Regions from separate parts of the Homo sapiens genome. Here region 2 is linked to region 1. Evidence: fine-mapped expression QTL. A gene starts in region 1. The other region holds a variant in brackets. All regions are shown on one strand. Distances are from middle to middle. Region 1 holds the start of SARAF (store-operated calcium entry associated regulatory factor). Region 2 has its middle 27 kb from the start of SARAF.

The links.
Region 2: its variant is fine-mapped to the expression of SARAF in whole blood (TOPMed, PIP above 0.99).

Annotation. Positions count from the first base shown.
Region 1 is chr8:30,078,050-30,086,740 of GRCh38, forward strand. SARAF (store-operated calcium entry associated regulatory factor) reads right to left here and starts at 5,015. Exons shown (of 6, transcript NM_016127.6): 1 at 4,798-5,015. The coding sequence starts at 4,900. RefSeq lists an enhancer at 4,579-4,928 and a silencer at 4,969-5,338.
Region 2 is chr8:30,052,045-30,060,735 of GRCh38, forward strand. No RefSeq gene overlaps it. Among named protein-coding and RNA genes, the nearest start is that of SARAF, 27 kb to the right of the region's middle. RefSeq lists an enhancer at 4,896-6,095. The variant T/C (reference allele first, on the strand shown) is at 4,310.

The DNA of each region.
Region 1 (8,691 bases):
GAATCGCTTGAACCCGGGAAGCAGAGGTTGCAGCGAGCCGAGATGGTGCCACTGCACTCCAGCCTGGGGGACAGAGCTAGACTCCGTCTCAAAAAAAAAAAAAAGAAAGAAAGAAAAAAGACAGTAGGAGGAAAAAAAAAAAAAAGAAAGAAAGAAAATTACCAGTTCAGGACCAGTTCAGAAAGTCCAAAAATCCAACAAGGGCTTCTGAAAGAATGAACAAGGGAATCTGATTAGACAAACTCCAGGCTGTAATTCAAGAAAAGTTCCCACACTGAAGGACTTGAGTTGTCATACTGAAAGGGCCCAACAAATACCCAGGCCTGAGAAACAGACCACACAAAGGCACACGAAAAGTAAATTTTAGAACACTGAAGACAAAAAAAGATTCTACAAATTGCCAGAAGAATAGGGAGAAAACAAGCCATATAGAAAAGATAAGACTTAGAAAAGCTTCAGGTATCTCAACAGGATAGAAAAAGAAAATGGAGAAATATATTCAAAAACTCTAAAGGAAAAAGTCTGGCTGGGTTTGCCAACCATCGCTTTGCTAATGGTGGAACAAACTGATGTTACAACATCTCCTATGATGTATTTCCCACAAGTATTTAATATGAATCTAATCAATCTAATAAACTTAAGGTCAATACCCTATCTATATAAAAAATATATATAGAGAGAGAGACCTAAATATACTTCCAACCAGGAACCCAATAGGGTTTTTTGGGGAAAGAAATTATGTTAAAGGTCCTGTGGACAATTTTTTTTTGAAAAAGAACACATAGGTTACCAGATAGTAAAGGTTACTATAAAATTATTATCATCAGCCAGGCACGGTGGCTCACGTCTGTAACCCCAGCACTTTGGGAGGCCAAGGAGGGCAGATCACCTAAGGTCAGGAGTTCGAGATCAGCCTGGACAACATGGTGAAACCCCATCTCTACTAATAATACAAAAATTAGCTGGACGTGGTGGCATACGCCCGTAGTCCCAGCTACTTGGGAGGCTGAGGCAGGAGAATCACTTGAATCCAGGAGGTGGAGGTTGCAGTGAGCTGATATTGCTACCACTGCACTCCAGCCTGGGCGACAAGAGTGAAACTCCATCTCAAAAAAAAAAAAAAAAAAAAAGATTATAATCAAAATAGTAGGGAATTGGAACAGAGACAAGGAAATTGTGAAACAAAAGAAAGATCAGAAATAAATCAAGATACATTTGGGAATTCAGTAAGATGAAGTGGTCTTTTTAATTTAGTGGATAAAAGATGTCTTCTTTAATAAATAGCACTGGCATAATTGACTATGCAGCCACAAGAAAATCCACCTAAAGCTATATAAAAATTTAATTCCACATGGGCTACAGATCTAAAATTTCCAAGAACTATATTCAAATAAACCATGCTACATTAAACACAAACTACTACCTCCTCATACATAAAAAATAAGACAATGAAAATGTTCAATGGTTTAGAAAAATCAGACTGTATTAATCAACTAAATAACAGAAATAATAAATTGAATTTATTGTAACAGAGTTGCAATAATGCAAAGAACACTGAACTAAGTTGGTGTCACTAACTGGCTGTGACTTTGGCCAAGGCATTTAATTTACCTGTGTAGAAGTTTCCTCACCTACAAAATTAAAATATTATCAACCTTGAAATTTGTTGTGAAGCTTAGATATAATTTATTATCTGGCTGAGTACTTGAAGCATAACAGGTGATCAGGTATGATAAATATTACTGAAAGTTTTAAGATGGAATAGCATTACCATAATCCTATAGCATCTTTCTTCCCTAGAGATTCTTAAGGTCCAAGAACAAAATTCTAATACCCACGCCCCACTAGTTAGATCAGTCAAGGGACACAGGAGCTCCCTGAACTCCAGACTCATAAATCAAAATCACGGCAGGTCTCAAACAAGATAAACAAAACCAAACTCCCCTAAACCTGATCATCCCACATTCTTCCACATCTCAGGAAATGGTTAACTCCATGCTTCTAGTTGCTCAAGCCAAAAACCTTGGACTTCTCATCTTCTCTCCTCTCACTCCTACATCTGATCCTTCAGAAGATCATGTTAGCTCCACCTTCCAAACAGGTGACAAGAGAATCCAGCTACTCTAACCAGCTCTCTACTGCTCCTGCCCTGGGCCAAGCGGTCACCACTCTAAGAACTTACTGTACAATATTAAAATAGATAGCAATATATATTAATTCACTGGTTTCCCTGCTTCCCTCCTACCCTCTTCGGTCTGTTTTCCACAGAGCAGCCCAAATGAGCCTTTAAAGATATAAGTAATTTCAGGTCATTTACTCCTCCTCCCCACTTCAGGTTTCCAGTCAAATGTCACCCTAACAGTGACTTCCCTGACCAATGTACGTTTTTTAAGTCTCCACTTCTGCCCGCACACCATGTCCTCCTTACGCTGTTTATCATACACGGTGCATACCAATTTTCACAATATAGCATGTTATTTACATGTTTATCTGTTTATTGTCTATTTCTCCCCAATAGAGGTAAAGTCCTTGGAGGCAAGACACTGTTTTGTTCACTGCTATATTCCCAACACCCGGAAGAGTAACTTAATATAAGATTACATTCAATAAGGAATTTTGAAAATTCATTGGTAATCTCTTTAGAATGGTGCTAATTTTTTTTTCCAGACAAATTACTGCTCAATGTGAGCTAAAGTAATGGCATCCAAGTCAAACAAAAGATAAATTAGGGAGCCGATTAATGCTTTAGTAAAGGACTTAATAAATAGTATGTCAATAAAGTATCTTCATTTAAAAAGTTCCTCAAAGTGCCGGGTGCGGTGGCTCACGCCTGTAATCCCAGCACTTTGGGAGGCCAAGGCGGGCGGATCACCTGAGGTTGGGAGTTCAAGACCAGCCTGACCAACATGGAGAAACCCTGTCTCTACTAAAAATACAAAATTTGCCGGGCATGGTGGCACATGCCTGTAATCCCAGCTACTCGGGAGGCTGAGGCAGGAAAATCGCTTGAACCCAGGAGGCAGAGGTTGCGGTGAGCCAAGATCGCGCCATTGCACTCTAGCCTGGGCGACAAGAGTGAAACTGTCTCAAAAAAACAAAACAAAACAAAAAAGTTCCTCAAAGTAAACTTTGAAGTAGAATTTACATAAAACAATTGAGTTTACTCTGCAAAATATTGTGGTGCTTTGTGTTCCAGAACAATAGTTTTACAGCGTAGATAAACCAGGAAGTGGTTCATCTTTAATTTAAATTTGGTTCTTCTTTCATAGTTTTTATAGTTCTTCTGGCTCTTCAACTGTAAACTTCCTTTATTAAATTTATTTACGAACTGATTCAAAGTTCAACAAATTAAAGTTTCATTCTAGGTTTTCACTTGTAATTCTGATCAAGTCTCCCACTCATACACAGCTTTCTAGAAATACAAAAGAAAAACGTACAGACATTTAAATACAACTTGGCTTTTTATTTTTGGTAATAAAATGTCCACATCAAATGACTACTCAACGTGATGTGCTTGCAAATAGCACCTTCTCTCTCATTTCAGCATGTAAGAATAGGCTATTATAGAAATAAACCTGTTGCTTAAATTCGACAATGCAGGCATTTCCAATCACCAAATCACAAAGGCAATATGCTTTCCATGCCATCTTTACTTCGCAAAGCAAAAATGATGTTGTTTTCATTTTTTTTTTTTTTTACAGAATTCCAAAGTAACAGCATGCGTCATTTATTACATGGAAAAAGTCAAAATCTGTATCTAAGTATATAGACATATACGTATTAATTGCACGGAATATTACTGATCCCATGAAAATTCTTTAGACAATTTTAATACTGTACTGACATAAAAGAACCTCTTTCCTAAAACCCACTTATCATGTACCATCACTAAAAAAAACCGAGAAAATTATTTTTTAAATTCTTCTCTACGGTGAAAGCCAATGGGAAGAGCTGGTGCCGCGCGATGTACATCACTGCAATCGTCAGATAAGAGGCAGCGGTTCTCATAAAGACGCGGTGGCTCACGCCTGTAATCCCAGCACTTTGGGAGGATGAAGGCGGGTGGATCACGAGGTCAGGAGGTCGAGACCAGCCTGGCCAACATAGTAAAACCCCGTCTCTACTAAAAATACAAAAAAATAGCCAGGCATGGTGGTGGGCACCCGTAATCTCAGCTACCGGTGAGGCCGAGGCAGGAGAATCTCTTGAACCCAGGAGGCGGAGGTTGCAGTGAGCCGAGATCACGTCATTGCAGTGCGGCCGGGGCGACAATGTGAGACTCCGACTCAAAAAAAAAAAAAAGAGTGCAATCTGCGATTCTGCTAACAGACCTGCGAGGTCTGCAGCCCTGTCCGCTAAGGGTGACTCAGAGACTGCCAGTGGCAGGCAACGGCCGGCGATAGCAACAGGCAGCCATGACAACAGCAGGCCACGATGACATCACACAGCCATAACAACAAAGCAGATGCGCAGGTGAGTGTCCAGCTCTCCAGTTATACTCAGAGATGAGAAAGACGACAATGGGCAAATTCCGGGAGTCCGGGGCAGGGAGAAAGGGGACCTTAAGGATCTCCAGCCGTCCCGCCCCGCCCACTCGAGCAGTCCCTACCCGCCTCCCAAGACGCCTGGGAAGAGCAGTGGAACCAGGGAGAGCACGAACAGCAAAGAGGTCAGACATGGGGAATCCGGGCACCCAGGCTCCGGGAAGACGGCGCACGGAAACGCAGGGGAGCCTGCACCGGCTGACGGCGGCGGAAAAGGGCGAACGAAGCGCCTGAGGGCCCTGGCAGCACTCACCAGGGTCGTTCCAGCCCAGGGCAGGGCCCGCGGTCAGCAGAAACAAATGCAAGCCGAGGAGCAAGCAGTACCCGGCCGCTCCCGGCCCGCAGGCTGCGGCCATGGCGCTCGATGAAGATGGCGCCGGGCTGCCAGACGCCTACGGGCCGAACCTGGGTGCGGTAGCGCGCGCGACGCTGCGCAGCTACACCGCTACCCCTGGCGGCGGCGAAGGAACGGCCCGACTGCAGAGCTGCAGCCGCAACGGATCCGTGCGCCAACCCTACGTCACTGCCGCTGCGGCCCGTGGGGCTCAGTGAGTGGCCGCCGTGGGCCCCCGCCCCTGGAGCACAGCGCGGCTTGGGGCGGGGCGAGGCGGTGTGGGCGGGGCCAAGGGCCTGGGGAGGCACGGCTGGAGGCGGGTTGGAGGCGTGGCGCCGCGGTGTGGGCGGGGCCGAGGGCCTGTCGCCGCCGCGCCCGCGGGCGGGGCGAGGGCAGCGCGCAGCTTTGTTGTGTCTCGTCTGAGATTCGGGAAGCTTCTGTGCGTAGGCGATGCAGTTTGAGAGGCTGAAAACGTCACGACGCGAAATCTAAGAAATGTAGTCAAATTATGTATTATTAAAACCTCAATAATTGTACCAAGGGTAGTTCTGTGCTTTATTCAGCTCTATGTGTTCAGCACTTAGCATAGCGCTTGGTACATGGTTAGTGTTCTATGACTGGTTGCTAAATACAGAGAAGATTCAAGCGAAAAGTAACAGGGAAATACATTGTCTGGTTTCAAGGCTCAGAACCTTTACATGGTTCCTTGCGCATGGAGGCCGGAAGACTATAAAATGTCAAGAGGAGAAAATATCGTCTGAATGAAGAACCAGCCAGAGAAAACAGTTCTCTGGGCTTTTGAGGTCTAGCAGGCTTGGGTTTCTTTCATTCATTCATTCATTCATTCATTCATTCATTCATTCAATGAATATATGTTGAATACCTAATACGCACCAGGCACTGTTTTAGGCATGGATGGTACAGACAAGATCCCTGTACTCATTGAAATAGAATAGGACAAACGACATACCAATTAAACAACAAAAATAATAGGTAATGATAGGTAATAACATTGATGAAAAACAGGGTGATATAATGGAGCCTGGGGACACAACTTCAGGGAGGGCCTTGCTGAGGAAGTGGTTTTTGAAGCTTGGGACCTGAATGATGAGAAAGAACTAGCCGTACAAAGATCAGGGGACTCATCTTCCCATCTGGGGAACAGTGGATGCAAAAGCCCTAACTTTGTGTTTCGAGGAAGAGTTATTTGGTCAGATCCTATAAAGAGTTCAGTCCCACAAGATGGCCCCAACTTCAGACATCAATCACAAGTCTCAGGTTGTGACCTATGCTTCTGACCAACCAGCTATAAATTAGGGTTTCCAGGCCGGGCGTGGTGGCTCATGCCTGTAATCCCAGCATTTTGGAAGGCCAAGGCAGGTGAATCGCCTGAGGTCAGGACTTTAAGACCAGCCTGGCCAGCATGGCAAAACCCCACCTCTACTAAAAATAGGAAAAATAGCTGGGCGTGGTGGTGCACACCTGTAATCCCAGCTATTTGGGAGGCTGAGGCAAGAGAATCGCTTGAACCTGGGAGGCGAAAGTTGCAGTGAGTCAAGACTGCCCCACTGCACCTGGACCATGGAGAGAGACTCCCTCTCAACAAATAAATTGGGGTTTTCATAACCCCCCATCTTGAGTTCCATAATTTGCTAGAATGGCTCACAGAACTCAAAAAAACACTTTATGTTTACCAGATTATTATATTGAGCACCTATTAGTACCTAACAGTACCTGCCAGGCACTGTTATCAGTATTGGGGATACAGCAGTGAATAAAACAAAATTTGGGGGACAAGAGGCAAACAAGGCCATAACTGAAGCAAAGTAAGTTAGGGGAAGAGTGGAATAAGAGATGGCAGAGCAGTGGGGCCTCGGCATGGAACCAACCAATGCTGGGACCAAGGACTGAAATAAGAGATAATAGAGAATCTATGCTCAACATGTTAAGTTTGAGGTGACTATTAGGCATCCAGGTAGACGTGTCAAATAAATAGATAAACTGTAAAAGTCTGAAGTTCAAAACTAAGGTAAATTTGGTAGTTATGTTGTAAATATAAAGATAGCATTTAATGTCATGATGCTATTGTTTGAATGTGTCCCCCAAAGCTCATGTGTTGGAAACTTATTCCCCAAAGCAATAGTGTTGAGAGGGGGGACTCTTAAGGGGTGATTAGGTTATGAGGGCAGAGCTCTTAATGCTATTATCACAGGAGTGGGTTAGTTATTGGGGAGTGGGTTCCCGATAAAAGGGATGAGTTCAGCTCCCTTTCTCTTTTGCCTACCACCGTGAAATGACACAGCAGGAAGCTCCCCACCAGATGCAGGCCCCTGGACCTAGGATTTCCCAGCCTCCAGAACCATAAGAAATAAATCTCTATACTTTATAAATTTCCCAGTCTCAGGTATTCTGTTATAGCAACACAAAATGAACTAAGACATGTGGGAAGAGACACAGTAACATGAGAGAATTGAGATACCACAAAAAAGGAGGCCCAGGCTATGGAAACACTAACATTTGAACCTCAAGCAGAAGATTCTAGAAAGAATCTGAGAAGTAACCTCTGGTGAAGAAGGAGGAAGAACTAGGACAATAGGATATGGTAATTGAGAGAAAGAAAGAATGGTCAACAGTGTCCACTGTTGCTGAAAGCTTGAAGCAAAATTTGGTCTCTGAATTTTGCAATGTAGAAATCACTAATTACCTTAACAAGAGAATGTTTGTTATTTTAGATTCCCACCATGTACCATGTACAGTTCTGGACAGTCATGAACAAAAGATGAAAGGTTGTTATAATAAACATTCTAGTGGGAGAGGTAGCCAACAAATCATGTCATTTCAAATAAATAAGTGCTTTGGGCCAGGCACGGTGGCTCACACCTGTAATCTCAGCACTCTGGGAAGCCGAGGCTCAGGATCACTTGAGACCAGGAGTTTGAGGCCAATCTGGGCAACATAGTAAGACCCCATCTCCACAAAAAATTGTTTTTAAAAAATTAGCCAGATGTGGCCAGGCACAGTGGCTCACGCCTGTAATCCCAGCACTTTGGGAGGCCGAGGTAGGCAGATCATGAAGTCAGGAGATCGAGACCATCTTGGCTAACACAGTGAAACCCCGTCTCTACTAAAAATACAAAAAATTAGCTGGGCATGGTGGCGGGTGCCTAAGTCCCAGCTACTCAGGAGGCTGAGGCAGGAGAATGGTGTGAACCCGAGAGGCGGAGCTTGCAGTGAGCCAAGATCGCACCACTGCACTCCAGCCTGGGCGAAAGAGTGAGACTCCGTCTCAAAAAAAAAAAAAAAATAGCCAGATGTGGTGGCATGTGCCTGTAGTCCCAGCCACTCAAGAGGCTGAGGTGGGAGGATCACTTGAGCCCTGGAGGTTGAGGCTGCAGCAAGCCATGACTGCATCACTGCACTCCAGCCTGGGCAACAGAGCAAGACTCTATCTCAAATAATAATAAGTACCTTGAAGAAGAAAACAGAGCAATATGACAGGTAGTGCCATAACAAGTAGGATGGCCCAGAAAAGATTCTCTGAGAAATTACCATTTGAGCTGAGAGCTAAATGATGAGGCTGTAAAAGGAAAAAACAAACTGTTTTCTCCTTTCTACTGGCACAAAACACAGAGCAGTTCTGTGACCAGAAGAGGGGCTGGGGGAGTATTTCCCTACACACCAACCAACTCTAAAGGACATCAACACGATGTCCTATAACTCAATTCAAGTTAAGGGCCCAGTCTCCCACAAGACTGCCCCAATTCAGACGTCAGTCCAGGAAAATATTTTATGTTTACCAGTTTATTGTAAAGG
Region 2 (8,691 bases), 26 kb before region 1:
GCCTTCTGGAGAGCAATCCAGAGGATCCAATCCATCACCAGCAGACCTAACTTTCAGCTACCATTGTTGTTGCCACATTATGAATACTGGTCTTTCCCAGTCTGGTATATTCTTTTCCACTGTTCTTTTCCATCCATATTCCTATGCAGGTCACAGTGGTGTCCTCCTCCCTCACTTCCCAGGTAATAGCTCTCCAGGTTAAAACCACATATGCAGACATTCTTCCCAACACACTCATTGTGCCCTTGTGGATCCAGGACAATTCCAGTTCCAGACATAGCCACAAGCTAACCCAGAACCCACTTTTTCCCAAGACTATGTAGAATCGGGTAATAACCCAGAATTCCCGGTCTTCACTCATCCTTCTCTCCCCTAAGAGCTGCCTCTAACCATCCAAAAGGTACTATTTATGAGGAAGTCCAAAAGAGATGTGTGAGAGATACTGCATACTCTTCCAGTAGCCACCTGGGTTTCCATGAAAATGTACTTCTGCTTAAGCAAACTTTCATCTCTGCATATTTTAAAAAGCAGCCTTCATCAAGCCCTTTTTAAAAGGCTTTGTTGTACATTTCCCCAAGAGCAATAGATGTCTGCTTACCCTATCTTTACTTATGAACCACAAAGAACAAAGAAGATCCGCTTTGGAATGACTCACTTTATCCTCCCATGCAGGAAGATCAAAGGCCAAGTTTAAATGGCAGCTTCTCTGACATCCATATCTTAATTACAGTCTGGGTGCCACATTTAAGCATAAATCTTATTCTAGAAATATATCTTATAAATCTAAACACATGTACATTAAAGATCTAAACTATAATAAAGTCTCTGACTCCAGTGTTTGGAGCAGCTACAACATAAACTCATGTACAAAAGATATGTTCGGATGTTCATTATTGCATTGTTGAAAATAGGGAACAAAATTGAAAATGTGGTAAATGTATATTGATATTGATAAAGGAATGGTGAGATTAAATTATAATATATCCATATGATGGAATACTATGCAGCTGTGAAAAGAATAGATTTATTCTTTGTGAAAAAATTCTGGACATTGTGTATAATTTCTATAATAATAACCAAAAAATGTTAACAGAAATTATTTCTAGGTAGAGAGACCACACTGAGAGGATGAAACGAAGGGGGCCGTGGGGAGTTGGGCAGATATAGACTTTTTTCTTTTTGGAGACAGGGTCTTGCTCTGTCGTGACTGACACGGTCATAGCTCATTGCAGCCTCAGACTCCTGGGCTCAAGTGATCCTCCTACCTCAGCCCCCTGAGTAGCTGAGATTACAGGCATGTGCCACCATGCCTAGCCAGATACAGACTCTTTCTTTTCTCTTTATATCCTTCTAAACTGTTCGAATGTTTTACAAAGAACTTGCATTGCTTTTCTTTTTTCAATTATGAAATATGCATATTTTAACTTATATATAGTTGTGAATGATTTATCTATATAATTTAATTAAATATAATTTAACTTGATAAATACTCATAATTTTGAATATTTTAATGTAAGGAAGAAATGTGTCTTTTCTCCTTTAATAAGGAAAGATTGTGCTGGGGATTTAAAAAACAAAAAACAACAACAACAAAAAAAAACATGATCAAACCTAGGTAGATGACCAGATGGTGGAGGATCCAAAAGCTAGGTAAAGTAAGAAATGATTGAGAGTGTTTTGGATTTTTAACTTGAATAAAAAATAGAGCTGTCTTCAAATATCTACAGTAAGGGAATTCCACTTTTATGTTTGTGAGGGCAAGATGATTTGAACCAATCCTATCACACACGGAAACTAACAAAACTGAGCAAAATATGAAAAGACATCTTCCCGAAGGCATCACAGAGCTAGCAAAATCATGAAGATTTACTATTTCTGGATCCAGGGAAGACAGGAACTCCTATAAATTATGTGGGCATTATTCCCATCCTGCCCTTCATCCACTAGAAAATGATTTACTTAGAAACAATGTGAAACATTGTGATACACAATAAGGCATTCTGTAAATCTACATATCATGGTTTCAACAACAGCCTTTCGAGTGGGAAGGGCCAATCCAAACCCAGAGTAAATGTCTACTTCAGTGACAACAAATCATTGCCCCTTTCATGATAGAAGTGGTCTCATGTAATCAACATGCCACCAGATGGTGGGCTGATTTCCCCAGGGAATTGAACCGTATTCAGGGTTCAGTGTTGGCCTCTGCCGTTGGGAGATAGGGCACTCAGCAGCGGTTGTAACCTGATCGGTTTTGGTGAATGGAAGACCCTTTTGCTGAATCGATGGATAACTTTCATCCCTACCACCTTAGCCACTTTGTTTATGAGCCAATGAAACAGGAGTAGGGCTTGCTGAAAAAAAGAGGCTGAATAATAGCCACAGAAAATGTCATCTTATGAAGTGACTTAAGATGCAACGTTCTGTCGGGGACATGAACTACTTACTGATCCTAATACTCTGAGTGGATGGTTTCCTGAGGGATGATGGCTTCCTGCTTGGATGTGATGATGCCTATAGTAAGCAAGGTGGAGATGCCAGAATTTCTGTGATATTCTACTACTCAGGTAGTTGTAAGCATGTATATTGGACAAAAAAAAAAAATCTCATCTTTGTTAAGAGAGGACCATACATCTACATTTCCCCCAGATATCCTTATCAATTTTTCTTTCTTTTTTTTTTTTTTTTTGGAGACAGAGTCTCGTTCTGTCACCCAGGCTGGAGTGCAGTGGCACGATCTCATCTCACTGCAACCTCTGCCTCCTGGGTTCAAGTGATTCTTCTGCCTCAGCCTCTCGAGTAGCTGGGACTACAGGTGTGTGCCACCACGCCTGGCTAATTTTTTGTATTTTTAATAGAGACAGGGTTTCACTGTGTTAGCCAGGACGGTCTCGATCTCCTGACTTTGTGATTTGCCTGCCTCAGCCTCCCAAAGTGCTGGGATTACAGGCGTGAGCCACTGCGCCCAGCCTAATTTTTGTATTTTTAGTAGAGATGGGGTTTTACCATGTTGGCCAGGCTAGTCTCTAATGCCTGACCTCAGATGATTCGCCCACCTCGGCCTCCCAAAGTGCTGGGATTACAGGCATGAGCCAGCTTGCCCAGCTTTATCGTCAATTTTTCAGTCTCATTTTTCCAAGCCCCTGGTCACCCATTCAAACCAGAAACCACTGTCTATTTTGAAAAGTGTAGATACATATGTCTTGCCATCTCTTATTTCAGATGCATAGCTCAAAATTCCACCCCCTCAGGGCACTTCCCTTCACTGTCCTTCCAGGTGGTATCAGCATATCATGCAGATCCATTTGTAAATCAGGCTACTCTTGACTTGCTGTCCTGTATGGAATTCCATCCACCTTGGTTGGCTCTGACAATGAAGAGATGCAATTTGCCACTTCGGAAACCCACTATCTCTGTTAATCTTGGGAAGTCCATTTTCATGACAGCATTTCCCACTATTAACCTTTGCCTACAGAGGACAACTATCATTGAGCCCTTAAAAATGCTAATAACTCTCTCACCAGTACCTTCCTTACTACCTTGGTAAAGGGAGATGCTCTGAACCCTCAGAGTAGAGTCAAATGTTGGATTATTCAGTCTCATAAGTAAATTCTAACATCCCACTTCCTTGAGTCTTCAGATACTGTGCTCAATACTATACCATAGAAAGTCTGGCATCTCTACCTCACTTACGGTAGGCATCATCACATCCAATCAGGAAACCATCATCATCCATCAAGAAACCATCCCAGAAAATTATTAGAACCAGTAGCTCATGTCTTTGACAGAACATTGAATCCCAATTCACAGGTGAACATAAAGGACTTCTCTTTCCACCATATTTCACCCCTCCCACAGCCCAACTTCCAGATGAATTTCCACATGGTTTATCCCTACTCTCGCTGGTACATATTAGCTGTATGGTACCATGATTTTTTTAGTATGTGACCTATTTCCTCCCAAGGCAAGTGCTATAATTCCAAGAGGTTATCATTCTTTTGCTGTGTGGCTTATTTCCTCCCAAAGCAGGGACTGTCTTTCCCTGTTAAGGTTGAGATCTGACTCTAGTTATTGGCCTGGAGGCAGAGATGTGGCAGGACTCAGTTTTAAGAAAAAATGCTATCTTACAAGGCATCTGCTTCAGGTGAGGCCGTTACATGGTCTCTAGACAAGGAAGGCTAATCCCCTTCAGCAAGAAGGAAGGGGCTGCTATGCCAGAAAGAAAGACTTAGGAAGATGTCGATGTTCAAGTTCTTCTGATTCCTTGAACAGTCCAATTCCAAAATTCCATCCTGTACAACTTTCACACCAA[T/C]TGTCTTAACACAAGTCCTCTAGAAAGCAGAACTCAAGCAAAAAAAAAGAAAAACATTTCTGGCACTTGGACAGAAGCATGTCCAAAGACACAGGGTGAGGGAAAAAAGTGAGACAAATAAAGATGTGATGCAATGGCATGCAATGGATTGCGGCACTGCTTCACAATGAGCTACAGACACACAGTAGGTCGCTTTGCAGGCAGGTTCACTCTGCACAAAGGACTTCTCCAGAAGAGTTGCAAAAAGAAAACACATCTTGCAGTAATCCCTGAAAAGATAGGAATTTATTTCCCATTGGTCATTGCTCATTCCATTGAGCTAATTCCCTAAACAACTGAGTTGCACCATCTGGGCTCCCGGCAGCCACACAGGAAACCATATTCCACACCTTGCAATGTGTCGTCTTATTCAAATCTCAAAGTGGAGGGGTGACCTGGTGTGGGTGTGACACCAACCACGTGAAAGGAGAAGGCAGTTAAGAGCCTCTGAGAAGGTGTACAAGTGGTGCTGATATAGTGGATTTGGAAGTTCCAGTGCACAAGGAAGGAATGCTTCCACCAGGAAACACTGTCACGATGAATTGGAAACCTGAGACTGTCCTTGGACAGTTTGGGCTCCTCATGCTACTGAACAAATGGACAAAGTAAGGGGCCACTCTAACAGGTAATTCATCCTAATTATCAAGGGAAAATTAGGTTGCTGGCCAGGCGCGGTGGCTCATGCCTGTAATCCCAGCACTTTGGGAGGCCAAGACGGGCGGATCACTTGAATTCAGGCGTTCATGACCAGCCTGGCCAACATGGTGAAACCCCGTCTCTACTAAAAATACAAAAATTAGCCAGGCATGGTGATGGGCACCTGTAATCCTAGCTACCCTGGAGACTGAGGCAGGTGAATCACTTGAACCCAGGAGGCAGAGTTTGCAGTGAGCCAAGATCACACCACTGCACTAAAGCCTGGGCAACAGAGCAAGACTATTCTGAAAAAAGAAAAAAAAATGAATATTAAAATGACTCTTGAGCTTGCCCAATAACCTGGACCTATCACAGAGCCTTCTTTTGTTCTAGGCTCCTGTTAAAACTAGCAGCTTTGCGATCAGTCAGTAAATGGACTAGAGTTGCATACCACATAAGGAATATGTTGCCCGCAAGATCCACTAGGTATTGCATCATTTTTTTCATCTGGAGCCAGATGTAACGATTTATCCTTGGCCTTAGAAAGATATTTCAACATGTCCCATACTACTGGACTCCTAGAAATTTCCCTGAGGTAGAAAGCCCCTGAATCTTTGTCAGATTTGTTTCCCACCCTCTAACATACAAATGCCTTACCAATACATCTACAGTAGTTGCTACTTCTTGGTAGTTGCTCTTCTTGCTCATCAGATCCAATCAGCTTAATATAATAAATGTCATGGACCAGTGTGAAGTCTTGTGGAAGGGAAAGGTAACCAAGGTCCTTGCAGACTAAATTATGACATAGGACTGAAAAGTGAAGGTGTATTGCTGGCCCTGCCAGCTGAAAGCAAGCTGCTTCTGATGGTGTGTACTAACAGGTATGGAGGAAAAGCATTTGCCAGAGCACTTGTGTTTCAACTACCAGATATGTTCATGTACCCAAGTGATGAAACTACATCTGGAACAGCAGTTGCAATTGAAGTCACCATCTGGGTAAGTTTATGACAACCTATTATTACTCTCTATCCGTTTTCGGCACAGGCCAAATAGGCGAGTTGAATGGGGATGTGGTAGGAAGCACCAGCCCTATATCCTTCAAGTCCTTGATGGTGGCATTAATCTCTGTAATCCCTCCAGAAAGGCAGAACTTACTATCTCACGGTTCTAGAGGCTGTGAGTCTGATATCCAGGTGGTAGCAGGGCCATGCTCCCTCTGTATGTGCTGAGGAAGGATCTGTTCCAGGCCTGACTCTCAGCTTCTGGTGGTTTGCTGGTAATCTTTGGCATATATTGGCTTTTGGCAGAACTCCAGACATTACATGATTATTTCTGTTTGTGTGTCTGTGTCCAAATTTCCTCATTTTATAATGACATGAATCATTGGTGTTCACTCTACTCCAGTATAACCTCATCGTAATTTCATCTGCAGTAACCCTGTTATGGTTTGGATGTTTGTCCCCTCCAAATCCCACATTGAATGTGATTCCCAATGTTGCAGGTGGGGCCTGGTGGGAGGTGTTGGGAGCATACAGGAGGATTCCCTCATGAATGGTTTAGCACCATCCCCCTCGTGATGAATGAGTTCTTGCTCAGTTAGTTCACACAATATCTGGTTGTTTAAAAGTCTGGGACCTGGCCAGGTGCGGTAGCTCACACCTGTAATCCCAGCACTTTGGGAGGCCAAGGCAGGAGGGTCACTTGAGGCCAGGAGTTCAGCCAACATGGTAAAACCCTGCCTCTATTAAAAAAAAATACAAAAATTAGCCACGTGTGGTGGCACACACCTGTAATCCCAGGTACTCAGGAGGCTGATGCAGGAGAATCACTTGAACCCACGATGCAGAGGTGAGGTGAGGCAGTGAGCCAAGATCACACCACTGCAGTCCAGCCTGGGTGACAGAGCAAGACTCTGTCTCAAAAAAAATCAGTCAATCAATCTGGGACCTCCCTCCCTCGCTCTCTCTTGCTCCCACTCTCACCATGTGACGCACCTGTTCCCTGCACCTTCCACCATGATGGGAAGCTTCCCAAGGCATCACCAGGAGCAGATGCCGGCACCATGCTTCCTGTACAGCCTGCACAACTGTGAGCCAATTAAACCTCTTTATAAATTACTTGGTCTCCGGTATTCCTTTATAGCAACACAAATGGACTAACATAGACTCTATTTCCAAATAAGATCACATTCTGAGGCACAGAGCTCAGGCACTTTCTGTGTCCCTCCATTTCACCCCATTTCCTCACTCCAACTCTCCCTAGTCGCCTTCATCTCTAACTTGGATGTTCTTCCAATTGGGATTCCCCACAAGTCCTCTCAGCCCCTTTAATCAAGTGTCCATATCACAGCCACTATTGGTTTATCATTTTTGTAGATAGAGGTAGTTCTAGTGACTTTCACTTGGCCTATGCCACCATAACAGCCTTCATTCCACAGGTCAGGGACCCAACGTAGAGATTCTGCTAGTTGCTGAGTATGTCTATTCTAATCCTGCATTCTAGAACGCAGGTTCCATTCCTGTGTAATAATCACAGGATCATTCGAGGGACCCATGGGACTCACTGTGAAATTGATCTGAGCTAAAACTCTATAAGCTCTTACTCTGACTGGTGGACCACAGTAATGTTTTGAGCCTCCTGGAATTAGCATCAATTCAGTGTCCAGTAATCCCTAAACTATCTGATTATTTTCCCTTTCCCCAGGGCATAGTTACCCCAGTAAATAGCCACGGGTCCATTGAGGGAAGACTGGGGGAAAGATAAACAATATAAACCTGGCAATGTGGTAGGGTTCTTCCTCAAGGGGAACCCAGCCTCTCCTTCATTGAAGGGATTCTGGAGCTATAAACCAGCTCAAGTCTAGGAAATGATTCAGAGGCTATGACTCACTTGTGGTGACTTAAGATAGACTTCTGTTGGCTGGGCACAGTGGCTCACACCTATAATCCCAGCACTTTGGGAGGCCGAGGCGGGCGGATCACCTGAGGTCAGGAGTTTGAGACCAGCCTGGCCAACTTGGTGAAACCCTGTCTCTACTAAAAATACAAAAATTAGCCAGGCATGGTGGCAGGCGCCTGTAATCCCAGCTACTCGGGAGGGTGAGGCAGGAGAATTGCTTGAACCTGGGAGGCAGAGGTTGCAGTGAGCCGAGATCATGCCCCTGCTCTCTCCAGCCTGGGTGACAGAGTGAGACTTGGTCTCAAAAAAAAAAAAAAAAAAAAAAAAAAGACTTCCGTTTACTCAGCCTAGAACTCTTCCACATACATAAATCAAATAAGAATTTAGTAGACTGCCATCTATTTCTTCCATAGGTACACAATGATCAACCAGCCAATGCCATAGGTCTCTGAGTCAGACAATTCTTGTTAATTTTTGTTTCATAAAATTTTTTGTAGAGATAGAGTCTCACTATATTGCCCAGGCTGGTCTCAAACTCCTGGCCTCAAGCAATCCTCCTGCCTCTGCCTCCCAAAGTTCTGGGATTACAGTCATGTGCCAGTGTTCCTGGCCTGAGTCCAACAATTCTGATGGCTGCTTTGACTCTGCTGCCCATTACAGCATAACCATGCCACGCTATCTTTGCTGATTGTCACCATTTGGCCCCTGCTACCCTGGGATCAAATTAACCCCACTGCCTCTAGGGGTCCCAGTTTGATGGTAGCAGTTCCCACTGTACATTCTGACCTACAAAGAAGAGAAACCAAATT